4 separate regions of the Homo sapiens genome follow, and regions 1, 2 and 3 are each linked to region 4. Evidence: fine-mapped expression QTL. A gene starts in region 4. Each other region holds a variant in brackets. All regions are shown on one strand. Distances are from middle to middle.

The links. PIP is the estimated chance that this variant, and not a neighbour inherited with it, causes the effect.
Region 1: its variant is fine-mapped to the expression of DDX52 in lymphoblastoid cells (GEUVADIS, PIP 0.95).
Region 2: its variant is fine-mapped to the expression of DDX52 in whole blood (INTERVAL, PIP 0.90).
Region 3: its variant is fine-mapped to the expression of DDX52 in whole blood (TOPMed, PIP above 0.99).

Annotation. Positions count from the first base shown.
Region 1 is chr17:37,606,971-37,612,123 of GRCh38, reverse strand. It overlaps SYNRG (synergin gamma), which reads left to right and starts at 2,706. Exons shown (of 22, transcript NM_007247.6): 1 at 2,706-2,845. The coding sequence starts at 2,769. DDX52 (DExD-box helicase 52) reads left to right here. Exons shown (of 15, transcript NM_007010.5): 15 at 1-2,385. The variant C/GC (reference allele first, on the strand shown) is at 3,138.
Region 2 is chr17:37,592,470-37,597,622 of GRCh38, reverse strand. SYNRG (synergin gamma) reads left to right here. Exons shown (of 22, transcript NM_007247.6): 3 at 1,279-1,400. Among named protein-coding and RNA genes, the nearest start is that of SYNRG, 14 kb to the left of the region's middle. The variant T/G (reference allele first, on the strand shown) is at 2,748.
Region 3 is chr17:37,618,283-37,623,435 of GRCh38, reverse strand. DDX52 (DExD-box helicase 52) reads left to right here. Exons shown (of 15, transcript NM_007010.5): 10 at 1,916-2,038; 11 at 2,159-2,309; 12 at 2,488-2,563; 13 at 3,597-3,668; 14 at 5,052-5,144. Among named protein-coding and RNA genes, the nearest start is that of MIR378J, 5.8 kb to the right of the region's middle. The variant T/C (reference allele first, on the strand shown) is at 2,196.
Region 4 is chr17:37,640,463-37,645,615 of GRCh38, reverse strand. DDX52 (DExD-box helicase 52) reads left to right here and starts at 2,170. Exons shown (of 15, transcript NM_007010.5): 1 at 2,170-2,282; 2 at 3,308-3,506. The coding sequence starts at 2,196. LOC105371756 (a long non-coding RNA gene) reads right to left here and starts at 2,678. Exons shown (of 2, transcript NR_188617.1): 1 at 2,080-2,678. RefSeq lists an enhancer at 4,123-4,623.

The DNA.
Region 1 (5,153 bases), 33 kb after region 4:
GCCTGGGCGACAGGGCAAGACTGTCTTGAAAATAAACACACACACACACATTATATATATTATGTATTATATATATTAGATATATATTTTTTCTTCAATAAATTAACCTTAGCTTACTGTAACTTTTACTTTATGAGTTTTTTTGTTTTGTTTTTTTTTTTTTTTTTGAGAAACAGGGTCTGTTACCTAATTTGGAGTTTAGTGGCACAATCATGGCCCACTGCAGCCTTGACCTCTTAGACTCAAGTGATCCTCAAACCTCAGCCTCCCGAGTAGCTGGTACTATAGGTGCGGGCCACCAACACTCAGCTAATTTTTAAATTTTGTAGAGACGAGGTCTTGCTTGTTGTCCAGTTGGGTTTTTTAGATTTTTTTTTTTTTTTTTTTTTGGAGATGGAGTCTTGCTCTGTTGCCCAGGCTGGAGTGCAGTGGCATGATCTCGGCTCACTGCAACCTCTGACTCCTGGGTTCAAGTGATTCTCCTGCCTCAGCCTCCCGAGTTGCTGGGACTACAGGCATGCGCCACCACACCCAGCTAATTTTTGTATTTTTAGTGACAGGGTTTCACCATGTTGGCCAGGCTGGTCTCAAACTCCTGACCTGGAGTGAGCCACTATATCCGGCCTTTATAAACTTTTTTGATTCTTGTCATAACACTTAGCCTAAAATGCAAATGTACAGCTGTAGAAAAATACTTTATTTCTTTATATCCTTATTCTAGAAGCTTTTTTTCTATTAATTTTTGTTTGTTTGTTTTGTTTTACTATTTACTTCTAAAACTTTTTTGTTAAAAACCATGGCACAAACACACACATTATGCTAGGCATACAAAAGGTCAGGATCATCAGTCTCACTGTCTTCCACCCCCACTTCTCATCCCACCATTGTATCTGCTGTCTGTGGCTGACCAAAACATCATCATGTAGCACATGACTAGTGTGGCAAGTGCTCTGTTAGATGTAAGGCCATGATGCTAAAGCATCACAAGAGGGCATCTAACCCAGATTGGGGATGTCATGGAAGGCCGACATCCTGAGTTGAATCCTGCAAATGTAAAAACCAATAGGCAAAGAAGAGGAACAAAAAGGATTCCAGGACAAACTGAGGTCACATCTATGATCCTTGACTTTATTGTGTCTGTTTAAAGTATCTACAGTAACCTGTATCAACTTAGTCAGTGTATTAATACTAAATTTAGCTCCTTCAAAGCAGTTGGAACTATGTGCTACATAAATTTCAGCTTCACACAAGGAAGGGAAGGAGTGAAATTAGTGAACAGGCAGTTACAGCAAAAGAAAAAACATAAAAATTGAATAGCTGGCTCTGGTGAAATGAGCAAGGACTTTAGAGTCAAACTGGCCTGGATTTGAATCCTGATCCTCATTGCTTGTAGCTGTATGATCTGGACAAATGACAGTAACTGTTTCTAACCTTGATTTTCTCATCTGTAAGATGCCAATTGTAACTCCTAAGGATACTGAGGATTTTTTAAAATGCGTGTACAGTTCCTGACCAGTGGTTTGTGCCTAATAACTTATTACAAATTATTACCCAGTAAAAACCTTGAGACAAGAGTGAAAACGTAAAGCTAATTAATCCATTACTTGTTAGCAAGCAAACTACGTGCTTGAGAAAATTACTCAACTTTCATGTTTTACTTCCAGACAGTAGTTTGATTAAAAGAAAAAAAAAAATCACAGCCCAGGCATGTGGCTCACACCCTGGCACTTGGAGGCCGAGGTGGGAGCATAGCTTGAGCCTAGCAGTTTGAAACTAGCCTGGGCAACATAGATCCTATCTCTACAAAAAAAAAAAAAAAAAAAAAAAAAAAAATTGGCCCGGTGTGGTGGTGCATGCCTGTGGTCCCAGCTACTCAGGAGGCTGAGGCGAGAGGATCGCTTGAGCCAGGGAGGCTGAGGCTGCTGTGAGCCATGATCATGCCACTGCACTCCAGCCTGGACAACAGAGCAAGACCCTGTCTCAAAAAAAAAAAAAATCAGTAAAAAATATGCCGAAATAGCTTCAGAGTAATTATGAATTGCCTTCCAAAAACCACTGTTTTGCACTTGCCTGCAAGAATAGGAAAAACAAAAGGACTGTAAGGTGGCAGGATGGCAGAACCAAACAAGAGTAGTACACCTTGGAGTTTTTTCGAAATATGGGTTGGGTTTTTGGGCTCTTGGTTGATTTAAAATAAAATTTAAATGCCTTCAGCGTCTGTGATAGGTGCCAACATGAAGCTACCGAGTTCCAGAGAAAGAGGGGAGAGCTGATCACTCATCAGTGCTGCGAGACTATCAAAGGGCCCTTCAGGACCTATCTGTTCTTTGTGTGTAAAGAGTAACAATAAAAGAACACCAGTGTACCCACCGTATAGTTTAAAAATCAGGACTCAGCCTACTCTTTCCACTAACCGCGATCATGGTTTTCAAACGGAGGACCAACGGCGCTTTGCCACTGGGCCGCCAGCTGGGCCCTGCAGAGGGCCTACCAGACAATGAATCAGCTCCCTTGGAGAGGCGCCCGCGACCGCCCCACCAGCCCGAGAGCTAGAATTGAATCTGGGGGACCCCTGCGGCGCCGGGTCACGTGCCGTGGGCGCGCCACGCCTCCCCGAGGGCCGGGGGAGTCACGTGGGCGCGAGGCCCCGCCCCATCGCCCGGTCCGCGGCGAGGTGGGGCCTGGTGTTTGACCCGGAAGTGGCTGTGTTCAGCTGACAGCTGCTGATAAGGTGGCGGCGGCGAAGGCAGCGGCAGGTCGGGAGCAAGATGGCGCTGCGGCCAGGAGCTGGTTCTGGTGGCGGCGGGGCCGCGGGAGCTGGCGCGGGGTCCGCCGGGGGAGGCGGGTAGGTGTGAAGAGCCGGGCGGGAGCCCGCTGGCCTCCGCGGGGGCGGCGAGGGGCGCTTGGCAGTTATGGCAGTTTTCTCCAGCCCTGATCCTTTTCCTTGGAACTGGGCTGCGGGAGGAGGGTCATCCCCCAGGGACCCAGGCCGAAAGGGGCGTGTGGAGCCCAGGTGCTGGACGCTGGTGTTCCGGGATCAGTTGGGGGCGCCGGCCGCCTGGAATCGAGCGGGGAGCGAGCGCGCGCCCAGTGTGGGAGGGGAGAGAAGATGAGGGTCCTCTTGGGGTGGGGGGGGG[C/GC]GGGGCAAATCAGGAACCGCGACTCCGCTCCTAGTCCTAGCTGCCTCTGAAGCGACCAGGGTCTTCCCTTTCCTTGGGCTTTCTAGACTTAACCGGATATGTTGGAGGGAGGGCTTTAAAAATCTGTTCACAAAGCTGGAGGACTGTTTCCAAGGGGGGTGTGTGTGTGGACTATTTGTCTCTTCCCCTTTTAGAGTGTCCTGTCCTCTTTATTTCCTTAACCCGCGACAAACAGCAGGAACATCTAAAGACCTCTGAATTAGTAATGGTCTTGAGATAGAGTTCTTGTCTTGTACACTAACTCTTAAGACTTGTCTGTCTTCTTTTTAAAAAGGCATTTAAAAACAAAGAAAGTGCACTGTTAAACAGCAGTTGCGCATTTATTAGAACAAAGCTTCCAGACTCAGCCCTTAAACAAATCTGCCCTCTGCCACATTTCAGCCAAGAACTGCCGTGGTTCTTATACCCAGAATGGTAAGGGAGATGTACGTTTTACAAGCTGACAGATTCGTTATCATTTAAGGAAATATTTTATTCTAGGAAGTTTTCACTCCACTTCTATAATGACCTAGTCTGATTTTGTTTTACTAACCAACACACAACAGCACACACATTTGGAGGTAAAAGTAGCTTTGCATCTTCAGTATCCTAAATTGTCTTTGGAAAACGAAGTGTTAGGTTTTTTTTTTATATGCAGTGTTTCAATTTCGGAGTCGTGAACACTACAAAAGTGTAAGGACCTTAAAGTTATCACCTCTTGCAGGTGCTTGTCAGGAAACGAGCAGTGGCTGTTCAATAAACCACCTGTGTGTAACCCCATTTTTCATTTCCTCTGCACATCTTTAACTTTAGATTTTTAAACTTTTTGCTTTCTCTTTTGTTCTCTCCGTTGTTTCATTAGAGGGTTTTTTAAAAAATAAATACTTCGTGTAAGCCAGTTTCTGGCTGGAGAAGAAACATATGTAATAATTCCCTTCTATTTGTTTTTTCTTTTTCTTTTGTCTTGTTTTTTTTTTTTTTTTTTTTTTTTTGAGAGGAAGTCTTGCTCTGTTGCCCAGGCCAGAGTGCGGCGGCGTGATCTCGACCCGCTGCAACCTCTGCCTCCTGGGTCCAAGCGATTCTCTTGCCTCAGCCTCGGAGCAGCTGGGATTACAGGTGCGCGCCACCATGCCCGGCTAATTTTGTTGATTGATCGATTGAGACAGAGTCTCGTTCTGTCACCCAGGCTAGAGTGCAGTGGCACGATGTCGGCTCACTGCAACCTCGACCTCCCGGGTTCAAGCGATTCTTCTGCCTCAGCCTCCCAAGTAGCTGGGATTACAGGCGTGCGCCACCACGCCCAGCTAATTTCTGTATTTTTAGTAGAGACGGGGTTTCACCATGTTAGCCAGGCTGGTCTCAAACTCCTGGCCTCAAGTGATCCGCCCACCTTGGCCTCCCAAAGTTCTAGAATTACAGGCTTGAGTCACCACGCCCGGCATCCTCTATTTATTTCCTATATGTGATTACAGTTTCTAAAATGTCCCTGGATGGTATTAATTTGATCAAGTATATGATTAATCATGGCACCAAGTTCTGGGAAAATGTAAACTTAGAAGAATTGATATCTAGGCCCAAATTTTTATTTACTTAAAAAATGTTTTTGGATGGGGAGGACCTCAGGTTCAGAAATTCAAGTGCATTATTCCCTTTAGTTTGCAGTATTTGAGTATCATTGGTCCATGGACACAAATTTTTAAAATAAATATGGGTTGAATTTTGATAGAAATTAGAATGATTTTAAAATTTCCCCCCTTTGTAAATGTAGCAACATCTGCATTCTAAAACTGTAAACGATATACAGGAGAGAAAGAAGTGGTTAAAATGATTCTTACCTTGAAAAATGTATGGTACATATGTTACATATATTGGCAACTTTCTGAGGCTGAGAAGCTGTATCCTCAATAGAAAAAGGAATATTATTTTTTTTAGAGAGTAATGGTGTAAAGGCTGAAGTTATTTTATTTCCTTTTTAAT
Region 2 (5,153 bases), 48 kb after region 4:
GCTATTTTGTGGTAACTGTTATATTACCTATTCATGTAAGAAAAAGGAAGAAGAATAACATTTCTTTGAGCATAGTAAGTATTAAACAGTTTTACAAATGATAAACCAAGGCATAGAAAGAAGCAGATTGCCCAAGGTTCCAAAATAGTATGTGTCATTTCTAGTTGGCTCCCAGAGTTCATGCTCCTAACTGTTATTTTGTTAGTTATCTGCTGTTGTGTAACAAATTATCCCAAACTTTAAAAAGTAAACATTTTATTATTTCATAGTGTGTCTCTCGGTCAGGAATCTAGGAGTAGCTCTGCTGGGTGGTTCAGGCTCAAGACCTCTTATGAGATTGCAGTGAAGATGTCAGCCAGGCTTGCAGTCATCTGAAAGTTTCATGGAGATGCTGCCGAGGTGGCTCGCTGAGATAGATGGCAAATTCATGCTGCCTTTTGGCAGAAGACCTCAGTACCTTACCACATGGATTCTCCATAGGTCTTATTGAGTATTTCATGACGTGGCAGTGGCTTGCTCCAGAGCAAGTGATCCAAAAGAACCAGGAGGAAACTACAGTGTCTTTTAAGAACTAGCCTTCAGGCCAGGCACAGTGGCTCACACCTGTAATCCCAGCACTTTGGGAGGCTGAGGCGGGTGTTGAGGTCAGGAGTTCAAGACCACCCTGGCCAAGATGGCGAAACCCCATCTCTACTAAAAAATACAAAAATTAGCTGGGCGTGGTGGCAGGCACCTGTAGTCCCAGCTACTTGGGAGGCTTGAACCCAGGAGGTGGAAGTTGCAGTGAGCTGAGATCATGCCACTGCACTCCAGCCTGGGTGACAGAGTGAGACTCTGTCTCAAAAGAAAAAAAAAATAACTAGCCTTCGAAGTTACATGCTGTCATTTCCACAGTATCCTGTTGGTTATACTGATCAGCCCCATTCAGTATGGAATGGAACAACACACGGGTATGAATACCAGGAGACAGAGGTCATTGGAGGCCATCTTGAAGGCTGAGTACCCCAATTAGGCCATACTGTTTTTTAATATGCATACAAATTCCATAGAAGAGATATTATCTTCATTTTACAGATGAAGTTTTGTAACTTGTTCAAGATCACACAGCTAAGTAAATGATGGAGTTGGAATTCATATTCACATCTGTCTCACTCAGGACCCTGTGCTTTTTCCATTACACTCTGCTTCCTGCCAAGTAACAAGTCCTTTAGGTACTTATGGTTTTAAGAAAATAAACTTTAAAACACATTGACTTTAATAATGTCTTTATATTTTCAGCAGGCCTGATGCCGATGCAGCAACAAGGATTTCCTATGGTCTCTGTCATGCAGCCTAATATGCAAGGCATTATGGGAATGAATTACAGCTCTCAGATGTCCCAAGGACCTATTGCTATGCAGGTACTTGCTTCTTTAGTTGGTTTCTTACAAAGTTATTGTTTGTTGTTACGTTTATATATCAAGAGCTACAGGCTAAGAGCTTAATGTTACAATTAGAAATAAGCATAAATAAATGGCTTCCTTCAAACTAAAATGAAGATGTGTTCACCCTCCAAGAGTGAGGGAAAAGGCTAGGTGCAGTGGCTCATGCCTGTAATCCCAGCACTTTGGGAGGCCAAGGCGGGCAGATCACTTGAGGTCAGGAGTTCGAGACCAGCCTGGCCAACATGGTGAATCCCTGTTTCTACTAAAAATACAAAAATTACCTGGGCGTGGTGGCATGTGCCTGTAGTCCCAGCTACTCGGGAGGCTGAGGCAGGACAATCCCTTAAACCCGAGAGGTGGAGGTTGCAGTGAGCCAAGATCATGCCACTGTACTCCAGCCTGGGCAACAAAGTGAGACTCCCGTCTCAAAAAAAAAAAAAAAGGCCAGAGGAAAAAAAGGTTTTTGCTTTTGTACTATTAACAGCTATCTTGAAGGCCATATACTGTATTTCTTTTTTACCTAATACTTTACTTATTTTTGCTTTTTTCAACTTATATTTTAGATTCAGGGGGCACGTTTGTAGGTTTGTTACACTAATATGTTGTGTGATGCTGAGGGTTGGGGTATGATGGAACCCATCACCCAGGTAGTGAGCATAGTACCAACAGGTAGTTTTTCAACCCTTCCCCCACTTTCTCCCGTCTTGTAGTCTCCAATGTCTGTCGAGCCTGTCTTTATGTCCATGTGCACCCAGTGTTTAGCTCCCACTTGTGAGAACATGCAGTATTTGGTTTTTTGTTTCTGCGTTAGTTTACTTATTTACCTAATACTTTAACATTTTCTATTTCTGTGTGTTTTGTTATACAGTATATACTTTTATACAGTAACACATGTATATAACTTATAAATAAGTGATATTAGGACTTCATGACCAGAATTTTAAGTTGAAACCATTGTTGTTTTGAAGTCGATTATGCAAATAAAGCTTCTGTTTTGTGTTTAAAGGGTCAGGAAAACTTCCAGTGTCATTTTTTATCTGTCTCTAGAAGGAAGGGAATACATTGAAATTGTGTAGGTTTTTAATTCATGTTAAGCTAGCTTTCACTAGGGTGTGCTGCAGAAACAGTCCCCAGATCTCAGTGACTTAGAAAAGTTTATTCCTCACTCGTGATACATATCCTTATGGGTTAGTGCTGACTCTGCTCCATGTTTTCTTTATCCTAAGACCCTCAGCCAGGACATCCTAGGCTCTTGGCATAGGAAAAAGAGATGGCCAAACCCTGTGATGTCTTTTAAAGCTAACACTTGGAGGTAGCATTTAT[T/G]AGTCACTTCTGCTCACCAAAGTAATGTGGCCTTAACATCAATAGGGGAGGAATATACCAGGACGAATGTAAACCACATAGGGATGTGTAGTTCTCTTAGAATAAAGGTAGCAAATGGCTGGGAGCAGTGGCTCACACCTGTAATCCCAGCACTTTGGGAGGCTGAGGTGGGCAGATCATGAGTTCAGGAGATCGAGACCAGCCTGACCAACATGGTGAAACCTCGTCTCTACTAAAAATACAAAAATTAGCCGGGCGTGGTGGTGCATGCCTGTAATCCCAGCTACTCAGGAGGCTGAGCAGGAGAATCGCTTGAACCCAGGAGGCAGAGGTTGCAGTGAGCTGAGATTGCGCCACTGCACTCCCGCCTGGGCGACAGAGTGAGATTCCATCTCAAAAAAAAAAAAAAAAAAGAAGAAGAAAGGCAGCAAATAACTAAAAACAATCTACCATAGAATACAATGTATTTTAAATTAAGACTTCCTAAGCTTAATACTGAATCTTAATAACAATTGATACAAATTTTAAATCATTAATTTTTATTTTAATATTAAATATTAATTAAAATAATTAATATTGTAATTAATATAATTAAAATTAATATTATTGTAATTAATATAATTAAAATAATTAATATTGTAATTAATATAATTAAAATAATTAATATTGTAATTAATATAATTAAAATAATTAATATTGTAATTAATATAATTAAAATAATATTCATAAACATTATTTTATGACTTACACAATTATCTGAAAAATGTTTTTAGAGTTTGAAACAACCAAAAACAGTAAGAGTCTCTAATATGCAGAACAATAAGAAAAAAGTAAACTATGAGAGTTGTTAGTACCTTAATAATGTCCCTGAATATCAGAAGCTTGTGTATTAATGATTCTAAGACAAAGCAGCCAAAGTCTTTTTCTTTAACCTTTAATCTTGCTGACAGGCATTATACTGTTTGGAAGCTGCTCACCATTTTTTTTTTTTTTTTTTGAGAGGGAGTTTTGTTGCCCAGGCTGGAGTGCAATGGCACGATCTCGGCTCACTGCAACCTCCGCCTCCCAGGTTCAAGCGATTCTCCTGCCTCAGCCTCCCAAGTAGCTGGTATTACAGGCATGTGCCACCACGCCCGGCTAATTTTGTATTTTTAGTAGAGATGGGGTTTCGCCATGTTGACCAGGCTGGTTTCAAACCCCTGACCTCAGGTGATCTGCCTGCCTCGGCCTCCCGAAGTGCTGGGATTATAGGCATGAGCCACCACACCTGTCCGCCACTCACCATTTTTTAAGGAGAAAAACATCCAGATTTTATTTCCCCCCACCCCGAAACTCAATAGCCCTAACCAATCAGGGACATACATGAAGCAAACCCATTGTTCCTTTAGTTATCTCTTAAGTCTTTGGAGATAAAAGTGATGATTCAGATAAAAGTCAACATAAAAAAATTTAGTCTTTTTTTTGAGACAGAGTCTGGCTCTGTTGCCCAGGCTGGAGTGCAGTGGTACAATCTCGGCTCACTGCAACTTCTGTCTCCTGGGTTCAAGCGATTCTCCTGCCTCAGCTTCCCAAGCAGCTGGGATTACAGGTGCATGCCACCACATCTGGCTCATTTTTGTATTTTTAGTAGAGACAGCATTTCATAGTGTTGGCCAGGCTGGTCTTGAACTCTTGACCTCAAGTGATCCACCCGCTTTGGCCTCTCAAAGGGCTGGGATTACAGGTGTGAGCCATCGCGCCGGCCAGAAATTTAGTCTTGATTATTATTATATTATTATTGATTATTATAATCTCTCCCTTCCCCAAAACACATAAAAAGAAAACACTCCTCATGATGTACAATACATTTTAAAATTATTATTCTGAAGCATTTCAAACATCTAGGCAAGTTTAGAGCACATGATGGACATGTGTAAACCTGTTGCAAACTGTTGTGTTATTGTAAGAAATAATAGAAATCCTTTGCCCAGTTCCCCTATTGGTAAAACTTGTAGAAATATAGTAACACAACCAGCATATGGACATTGGCACAGCTGAGATACAGAACATTTCCATCTCCCCAAGGATCTCCTCACATTGTCCTTTTGTAGCTGTATTCACTTCCTTCCTGCCCCACCTTACTCCTTTTGCATTCACTAGTGTGTTCCCCATTTCTATAATTTTGTGTTTTCAAAAATGTTATATAAATTGAATCATTAACCTTTTGGGTTTGGCGTTTGTCGCTTAGAATAATCCCTTCAGATTCATCCAAATTGTTGCATGTATCAGTAGTTCATTTTTTTTATAATCGATGAGTAATAGTCCATGGTGTGGATGTATGACAGTTTGTTTAACCTTTTGCTCACTGAAGGACATCAGAGTTGTTTACAATTTTTGGCTATTACAAATAAAGGTTTTTGCGTGAAC
Region 3 (5,153 bases), 22 kb after region 4:
TTTTTGTTTTTGAGATGGAGTCTCGCTCTTTCACCCAGGCTGGAGTGCGGTGGCGTCATCTTGGCTCACTGCAAGCTCTGCCTCCTGGGTTCACGCCATTCTCCTACCTCAGTCTCCCGAGTACCTGGGACTACAGGTGCCTGCCACCATGCCCGGCTAATTGTGACTACATAATTTTTAAGGAAAATTAGTTAAACAGTAATATGTAAGGTGAATTGTAATGGGAAAGATGGAAAGTAAGGAAACCAATCAGGCTTTTAAACTGGGGTAGGCAGAGATGAGGAAGAAATAAGGGCAGCAGCCTTAGTGGTGAGACATTAAGTATAGTTGGAGGCTAGAAGGGAAAAGTTTGCAAGTACCTGGTGACTATAGAATGGTTTGCTTTAGTGGTTAAGACCATGGACTCAGGAGCCAGGCTACTTGGGTAGTTCTAGCTCCACCACTATAGCTTTGCACAACTTAACCTCTCTTCCACATTTTCCTTGTCTGTAAAATGGGATAATAATATCTACCTCATAGAGCTGTTTTACTATTAATTCATTAGTACAAGCATAGTACTTATTATATAATAGTGCTTGGCACATAGTAAATGCTAAATGTATTTTATTAATATTCTTAAGAGAATCATTTGGTACTAGGAAATTTAAGGTTTTCCAGGATATTCCTTGGAGATTATACACCAGAGGTTTTCAGCCATGTTTGAGCTTTGGGAGGTCTGCAAACCCTCTAAAATTATACGTAAGATTTTTGTGTGAATGAGTAGTTACTTATTAGAAAGTTTCTTAGCTTTCATTAGATTCCAAAAGAGATGTTTAAGCCATCATAAAAAGGCTAAGAAACTCGGCCAGGCGTGGTGGCTCACCGGTGTAATCCCAGCACTTTGGGAGGCCGAAGCGGGCGGATCATCAGGTCAGCAGTTCGAGACCAGCCTGACCAACATGGTGAAACCCCATCTCTACTAAAAATACAAAAAAGTTAGCCAGGCGTGGTGGTGCACACCTGTAATCCCAGCTACTCAGGAGGCTGAGGCAGGAGAATCGCTTGAACCTGGGAGGCAGAGGTTGCAGTGAGCCAAGATTGCACCACTGTATTCCAGCCTGGGCAACATAGCAAGACTCTGTCTCAAAAAAAAAAGAAAAAAAAAGGCTAAGAAACTCTAATATGAACGGTTAAAAAGATAGCTGGTTTGAGAGAGAGTAAGGGTTTGATAGTGTAAATGTAAAAATAATTTGTTTAGATTCACAGACATCAGATGTAGTAAAAAAAAAATGTTTACTTAGAGATAGTAGTAGAGATTCAACTCAGTAAAATAAAGATTATATTGAAAGAACTGAGAACCAAGGACTAAGCTTGGGGAGAGCACCAGAGTTAGGATAAATAATGAGTTAATGAGGGATGAAGTACCACCTGTGGGGTTCAGTGTACACCATTGGGGTGATGGGTACACTAAAAGCCCAGATTTCCCCAGTATGCAATATATCTGTGTAACACAAATGCACCTGTACCCCTAAATCCATAAGAATAAAAAAATTAATTTCACCCCAAAAAACCCAGTGAATTAAAAAGATAATTATTTCATTTTAAGCAGAATAAAAAAAGGTTTTGAGGCACAGAAGTCAAGAGATGATTATTTCAAAGTTGAGGCATCTGTTACCATAGTGGGGTGTAGGGGGATTGATTAGACAACATTATTGGAATTAGCAAGATGGAGAATATATTTCAAGTTGAGTGGAAATAACCAATTGGAGAGAATGGTGACGAAGATGGAGGCAGAATTAGACCACTAGCCCAAGAAATTTGGCCAAGAAAGTACACTAAATTGAATTGGGTTCTTAAAAGCTACAATCAAATTATGAAATAATGACCAATTGTATTCTTGATTGAGTTATGTATGCCAATTTTTGTCTTCTTTTAGGGTTTCAATCCACCTGTTCTTGTTTTTGTTCAGTCCATTGAAAGGGCTAAAGAACTTTTTCATGAGCTCATATATGAAGGTATTAATGTGGATGTTATTCATGCAGAGAGAACACAACAACAGGTAAAGTCAAATATATACTTTGAAACTCAGAAGAACTACTTGATTTTAAACTATTGACATTAAATTTATGAAGTACCTGTTTTCATTCTAAAACAATTTAATATATATTCTGTTAACCAGAGAGATAACACAGTCCACAGTTTCAGAGCAGGAAAAA[T/C]CTGGGTTCTGATTTGTACAGCCTTGCTAGCAAGAGGGATTGATTTTAAAGGTGTGAACTTGGTGATCAACTATGACTTTCCAACTAGCTCAGTGGAATATATCCACAGGATAGGTGAGTTGTCTTTTTTTTCCTTCCCCTCTGTCACCCACTGATCTGTCTTAGGACCCCTGCTATTCCCTGCACATATGCTCACTTCTTAGTGCTGTGAAAATCCAGTGACTTTTATAAATGAATTTTGAGAGCCTCCTTCCCCCCAAAATGTGTTTTTTAATGGTCTAATTTTTCTTAGGTCGAACTGGAAGAGCAGGGAATAAGGGAAAAGCAATTACATTTTTCACTGAGGATGATAAGCCATTATTAAGAAGGTAAATTAGAAAAAATAACCTAGTGTTATTGGCAAAATTGCTTCATTATTCTTATATGTATATTCAATTAAGAGATAATTACAAAATGGCTATGTCCCAAATTCTACTGATAATGGTGTTAGTTGACCAAATTTTAGCCATGGGAAAGGAAAAATGATCAAAAGGCCTTGTTTTTGCCCTTCCGTTATTAGAATTTGGAAATACATATTCAAAATGGAATGTTCATTGTAAGTTTCAGACTCAGGACTCTTTCAATGGTTGATGTTAGATTTTAATGTAGAAGATGAGTTTCCTGCATTTTGACTGCCTATAGTAATTTTTGGTTGATGATGATTAACACTTCACATTTCTAGCTAATCTAGTTTTGGCCAAAGGAGGTTTGTACTTAGATCTGTTTATCAGTTTTGGTAAATATTTTGGTTGTGCTTTCTGAGCTTTGGCTCTGCCACCTGTCAGCCTTTATATCGCTTTAAGCAGATTCAAATGTGCGTGTGTAGAGGGGTATATTCCAACAACCTAGATCCACCATAGGCCTCAGCAACTCCAAGCATGTGAATCCCATGACCCAAATATTAGTGTAAAACTATGCACCTCAGTTTTCCATCTGTGAAATGAGGACAGTGATAGTATTTACAACACAGGCTTGTTGTGAAGAGTGAAGAAGTTACTATACACAAAAAACTTGGCAACGGTGCCAACCCCATAGTAGGCACTTTCACTTAATGAATTTAAGCTTGACTCTGGCTTCAGTCAGTGCTTCCTCCAAGATTGAGTTTACCAGTTTTGTAGGGCTTGATAAATGTTGAAATAGCTGCTATCTATAGTTATTCATCAGTGCATTAATTTCAGCCCAGTGGATAGTTCTCTCTGTAATCCAATGTGCTTACATCAGGTAATAATTGATAATATATCAGAACACTTTGTGGATTACTTTGTGTAGTTTTAGTTCCCTGTAAGGTTGTGCAGAGGGTTTACATTCATAAACATCAATTTAGCAAAGATACAAGTTTATGTTTATGGGTTTCTTTTTCAGCGTTGCTAATGTTATACAGCAGGCTGGGTGTCCTGTACCAGAATACATAAAAGGTTTTCAGAAACTACTAAGGTACAATCTTGAATTTACCTGTATCTTTGTCTGTCTCTTTGTATATACATTCTTTTTTTTTTTTTTCTTGCTCTGTTGCCCAGACTGCAGTGCAGTGGCATGATCACAGCTCACTGTAGTCTTGATCTCCTAGGCTCAAGTGATCCTCCTGCCTCAGTCCCCTAAGTAGCTGAGACTACAGGCATGTACTACCATGCCTGGCTATAATATTTTTTAGATTTTTGGGGAGTAGAAATGGGGTCTTGCTGTGTTAACCAGGCTAGTCTTGAACTCCTGGCCTCAAGTGATCTTGCTATCTTATATCCTTGCCTCCCGAAGTACTAGGATTACAGGCTTGTGTCACTGTGCCCAGTCCAAAACTGCTTGTGAATATTACATGTTATTTCCTTGCCAGTTTTTTATCCTTTATTTATTTATTTTTTTCCTTGAGATGAAGTCTCAGCTCATTGCAACCTCTGCCTCCCAGGTTTAAGCAGTTCTCCTGCTTCAGCCTCTCAAGTGGCTGGAATTACAGGTGTGCGCCACCATGCCCAGCTAATCTTTGTATTTTTAGTAGAGATGGGGTTTCACCATGTTGGCCAGGCTGGTCTCAAACTCCTGACCTCAAGTGATCTGCCCACCTGGGCCTCCCAAAGTGCTGGGATTATAGGCATGAGCTACTGCACCTAGGCTTATCCTTGAAATGTGAAGTATTCAGATTCTTTTAAAAGTATTCAGTATAAGTAAAATATGCTGAGAATTATTTTAGTTCATAAAGCTGGTAAAAAACTTAATTGATCAAAATCAAACTCTGATGCTTGTTGACACAGGATATAAGGTTGGCACAGGACATATTTTAATCACAGTCAGTAGCTTTCTAAAAGGTTGATTGAATTTATCATCCCTTTGAGTTAGCTCTGTAAATCCTATTAGGCGATCTCGTTTATTAAAGTAGTTACAGCCCCACCTTAAACCAGTAAATGGTTTTGAAAAATGAATTTTGTGGCTGAGCGTGGTAGCTCACGCCTGTAATCCCAGCACTTTGGGAGGCCGAGGCGGGCGGGACCTGAGGTCGGGAGTTTGAGACCAGCCTGACCAACATGGAGAAACCCCATCTCTACTTAAAATACAAAAAAAAATTTAGCCGGGCGTGGTGGTGTATGTCTGTAATCACAGCTACTTGGGAAGCTGAGGCAGGAGAATCGCCTGAACCCAGGAGGCAGAGGTTGCAGTGAGCCGAGATTGTGCCATTGCACTCCAGCCTGGGCAACAAGAGCAAAACTCCGTCTCAAAGGAAAAAAAAAAAATGAATTTTGTGATCAAGGATCAAAACTAATTTTAGCTTTAACTCTTCTAATTGAAGTTGCACTTAATTCTTTTCCTTTTTTACTTTGTAACTTTCAGCAAACAAAAGAAAAAGATGATTAAGAAACCATTGGAAAGGGAGAGCATTAGTACAACTCCAAAATGTTTCTTAGAAAAAGCTAAGGATAAACAGTAAGTATG
Region 4 (5,153 bases):
ACAAAGTATGGTAGTTGCCATTTCATACATATTAATTTTATATATGGCTATGGCCATATTTATGTGCCAAACTGAAGATCAACACACTAATATTGAGTTTTTCCTCTTATGTTGAAATAGATTAATTTTATTTATTTTTGAGACAAGGTCTCACTCTGTCACCCAGGTTGGAGTGCAGTGGTGCCGTTACAAGTCACTGCAGCTTCAACCTCCCAAGCTCAAGCAATCTTCCTGCCTCAGCCTCCCAAGTGGCTGGGACTATAGGTGTGTGCCACTACACCCAGCTAATGTTTTAATTTTTTGTAGAGATGGAGTTCCGCCATGTTGCCCCGGCTGGTTTCAAACTTCTGAGCTGAAGTAATCTGCCCACCTTGGCCTCCCAAAGTGCTAGGATTACAGGTATAAGCCACTGCGCCTGGCTGAAGATAAATTATTTTTATTGAACAACAGATGAAGTACTTGGGAAGTTCCTATTTTTAAAGAGTAGACACACTTGGGACAGGAAGACCACCCCCCGACCCACTGTAATAGGGAGTAAGGGGCTGAATTCATCTGAGAAACCGCAGATTCACCTCCCCCATCACATGCTCACCTCACACCTGCTTTCCTTGATTGTAAAGGACTCACCCATACAATTTCAAGTATGTTTCATTCTCTTTGGTCAAATACATATAACTGAATTTTTATAAGTTAAATGCTTATATGGTACAACTCCTTTGTATCATTTATATGTTGATGACTTCCAAATTAATTTCTCTAGCCCTAATTTTTGTTCCTGAGCTTCAGATTCAGAACCAACTACCTACTTGGATGTCTCCACTTAAAGTCAACTAGGTAGGCATCTTAACACGTCCAAAACATAACAATTGATTCCATCCTCCGTATCTCACTTGTACCAGAAAGCCCTTCTTCTCTCAGGCTTTCTTAGCTCAGTAAATGGCATGCCATCTACTCAGCCAAAAAACTAGGAGTGATCTTTGATTCCTCCCTTTCTCTCACCTCTGCATAAAATCCGTCAGGTACGTTTAGCTCTACCTCCAAAATACATGCCAGATCTAATCCATTTATCTCTCTCAGCACAGATACCAACCTAGACAAGCCATGATCATCATTCTACTTTGACTAACCTGTTTCCACTCTTAGCTTTTCTATGGTCCATTCTCCAAATAGCCAGTGTAATCCTTTATGAAACATCCACGCATTCATTCACCAAAGTGCACAGAAACTGGGGATACATAACGAAGCAAAGTATATCCCTGTGCTCAGGGACTTACATTCCAGAAGAGGGAGAGGCAATAAGCAGTAAATAATTTCGTACAGATGTAATAAATATAAAAAATTAAATGTGATAAACTAAATCATGTTCTTCTCTCCATAAAAATTTTCAAATAGTTTCCCAAGGTGGAAGTCCAAATTCCTTACTATGACCTTGTTACAAGATTCTGTGAGATCTGGCTTCTGTTTGTCCCTCCAACCTTATCTGTACTACTCTATCAGACTGCAACTTGGCTCTAGTCGCACCGGCATTCTTTCTATTCCCTCAAGGTTCCAATTTTTTTCCCTTCAGCCACGTGTTTCCCCTATCTGGAATGCTGTTCCCAGATCTTGGACAGGTTGCTTCCTCTTAGCTCAAGTTTTCACTTCAACAGAGTGAATTTCACTAAGTCAGCTCCCTCATCATTTTCTCTATCAATTACACCTTTTTGTTTTATAGCACTTATTACTTTACAGAGATTTTGCTTATTTATTTGTTAACAATATCTGTTGTCCCTACTAAAATGTAAGCTTCGTAAGAAGAGGAATCTTAAGATGTTGTTTACTATAGTATCCCTCAAAGTCTAGAACAGTGCCCAACATAAGAGGATACTGATAAATATTTTTTAAAAGAATTTACACACGCCTGTAGTCCCAGCAGTTTGGGAGACCGAGATGGGAGGATCACTTGAGCCCAGGAGTTCGAGGCTGCGATTGCGCCACTGCGCTCCAGCCTGGGCGACAGAGAGAGACCTTGTTTCAAAAAAAAAAAAAAAAGATAAATAATGACGGAGTACACGATAATAAAATAGCCTCGTTTCTCACCCAGCCAGGCTCCGCCTACAGGAGCCAATTATGCTCACGCCCTCTTCCGACGCTGCCCGGGGCCTGGGAAGTAGTCTGCGCAGGCGCCGTAGAACTGTGGCGCTTTCTGGGTAAAGATGGACGTCCACGATCTCTTTCGCCGGCTCGGCGCGGGGGCCAAATTCGACACGAGACGCTTCTCGGCAGACGCAGCTCGATTCCAGGTACTGTGCCCAAGGGACCGAGGGCCGAGTAACTGAGAAGGAGCAGGAGCCCGGGAATGAACCCGCTGCTGGGGGAGGCCGGCGCACTTGGACACCCGTGGCCTGGCTCTCGCCACCCTTGGGGTATTTTGCTTCCTTTTGTGTTCGGCTTGCCTGCACGGCTGCTCGGTTCAAGCCTTTTGAATAAGCTCTTTAACTATCCTGTTGTAGACCTAGTTGGGCCTGGCACGGAAACCCTCTTTCCTCCCTCTTATTCAAAGCAAAGTTGGAATCCTCCTTTCAAAAGGAACTTTTTCTCCGAACCTAGAGGAAAGGAATTTCGAAAACAGAAACAACCAAAGATGGAGAAAACAGATTCTCTTACTATAGTCTCCCCAAGTTTGGCTTGGCATGCGTATAGTTGTACTGGGCGTGATTCTTTTTATTGCTTCAACCCCATGGCTTAAGTAACCAATGAGAAGAGCGATTAAGAAATGGGGGCTCTTACCTAGAGAAGTAGTGAGTGATACATCGGGGGAGGTCAATTGGGGCCCAATTCTGGAAAATCTTGAATGTCTACTTTGTTGTTTGGATGTGTATATGCGTGTGACATGTGTTTCTTCTTTCTCTAACTGGTGAGTATGAACTCTGGAGCCAGATTATCTGGGTCTAAATGCTAAGTCTGCCAGTTACTCATTTTTAGACCTACCTCAAGTTACTTAATTTCCGAATGCCTTGGTTTTCTCATTCGTAATACTGCTATTTACCTTATAGAGTTGTAAATGTGAAGCAATTTAATATGTATAAACATGCTTAGAAATCTGCTTGACATTTAGTAAGCATATATGTGTTCATTGCTAATATTAATTTGTTACTATTATGAGGTCAGAGAAGGTCTCTTCAGATTCCATTTGTCCAGACACCTGTTAGCTCGACAGATACTTGGTGAAAGGGTAGAAAAGATGAGGAGTCATTGAACAGTCTTGCTTGAATGAAAGCAATGGTATTCTGTCAGTAGGTTTCATTTTACATTTTTTGGGTTTTAGATAGGAAAAAGGAAATATGACTTTGATTCTTCGGAGGTGCTTCAGGGACTGGACTTTTTTGGAAACAAGAAGTCTGTCCCAGGTGTGTGTGGAGCATCACAAACACATCAGAAGCCCCAAAATGGAGAGAAAAAAGAAGAGAGCCTAACTGAAAGGAAGAGGGAGCAGAGCAAGAAAAAAAGGAAGACGATGACTTCAGGTTAGTGTTTGATTTCTGTCATGTTTTTTCTCTTTAATTTTTTTCAGTTATAAAAATAATACAGGCTTATGGCTACAAGTCAGACAATAAGGTCATTTGTCAGCTGATGGCACTCAGGTTGTTTCCAGGTATTTGTCATTAGAAATATTGTTACAGCAAAGGTAATTTTAAGTAAAGATATTTATACATAAATCCTTTTGTACAGGTACTGTTATTTCTGCAGAATACCATCCGAAAAGTAGCATCATATGGTGAAAGGGTATGTACCCTTTCTCTGAAAAATACTACAAAGTGACTTCCCAAGTCCTTGTCAGTGCTGAATATTATTGGTGTTAATTTTTTTGCCAAGCTAATGAATGAAACTTTTTTTTTTTGAGACAGAGTCTCACTCTGTCTCCAGGCTGGAGTGCAGTGGCGCGATCTCGGCTCACTGCAACCTCTGCCTCCTGGGTTCAAGCAATTCTCCTGCCTCAGCCTCCTGAGTAGCTGGGACTACAGGTGCGTGTCACCACGCCTAGCTAATTTTTGTATTTTTAGTAGAGATGGGGTTTCACCATGTTGGCCACGATGGCCTGGATCACTTGACCTCGTGATCCGCCCGCTTTGGCCCCCCAAAGTGCCGGGATTACAGGCCTGAACCACCGCGCCCTGCCTGAAACAATTTTATATTTTACTGATAACTGGTGAGGTCGAGCATTTTTTTTTTTTTGAGATGAGTCTCGCTTTGTTGCCCAGTCTGTGGTGCAGTGGTGCAATCTCGGCTCACTGCAAGCTCCGCCTCCTGGGTTCACGTCATTCTCCTGCCTCAGCCTCCCAAGTACCTGGGACTACAGGTGCCTGCCACCACACCTGGCTAATTTTTTGTATTTTTAGTAGAGACCAGGTTTCATCGTGTTAGCCAGGATGGTCTCGATCTCCTGACCTTGTGATCCACCCTCCTCCGCCTCCGCCTCCGCCTCCTAAAGTGCTGGGATTACAGGCGTGAGCCACCACACCTGGCTGGTCAAGCATATTTTTGTATGCTTTACTGGACATTAATATTTCACCTTTTGTGAATTGTTTCTTCTTACTCTTTGCCCATTTTGACAGAGGTTTTTGTTTTTTTGTTGTTTGTTTGTTTGCTTTTGAGACAGAGTCTCGCTCTGTTGCCCAGGCTGGAGTGCAATGGCATGTTTTCCGCTCACTGCAACCTCTGCCTCCCAGGTTCAAGTGATTCTTCTGCCTCAGGCTCCTGAGTAGCTGGGACAGGTGTGCCCCACCACGCCTGGCTAATTTTTGTATTTTTTAGTAGAGACGGGGTTTCTCCATGTTGGTCATGCTGGTCTTGAACTCCTGACCTCGTGATCTGCCCGCCTCGACCTCCCAAAGTGCTGGGATTAAAGGTGTGAGCCACCGCGCCTGGCCTTTTTTTTTTTTTTTTTTCTTGTACTGTACTCTAGGGCTGTTTATATTTTTTTAATCTATAATATTAAGTTTCCTAGTCATTTACCTTTTTTTGGTAAACACTTGAGTTATACAATGATGAAAAGTAAAGTTCCTTCCTACTGTTTCTCTCCAGTCCCCTGTTTCTCCACACGCAGCTACTGTTAATCAATTTCTTTTGTATTTTTCTGGGGACACTATTCCTATGTATTTATGCCTGACTCA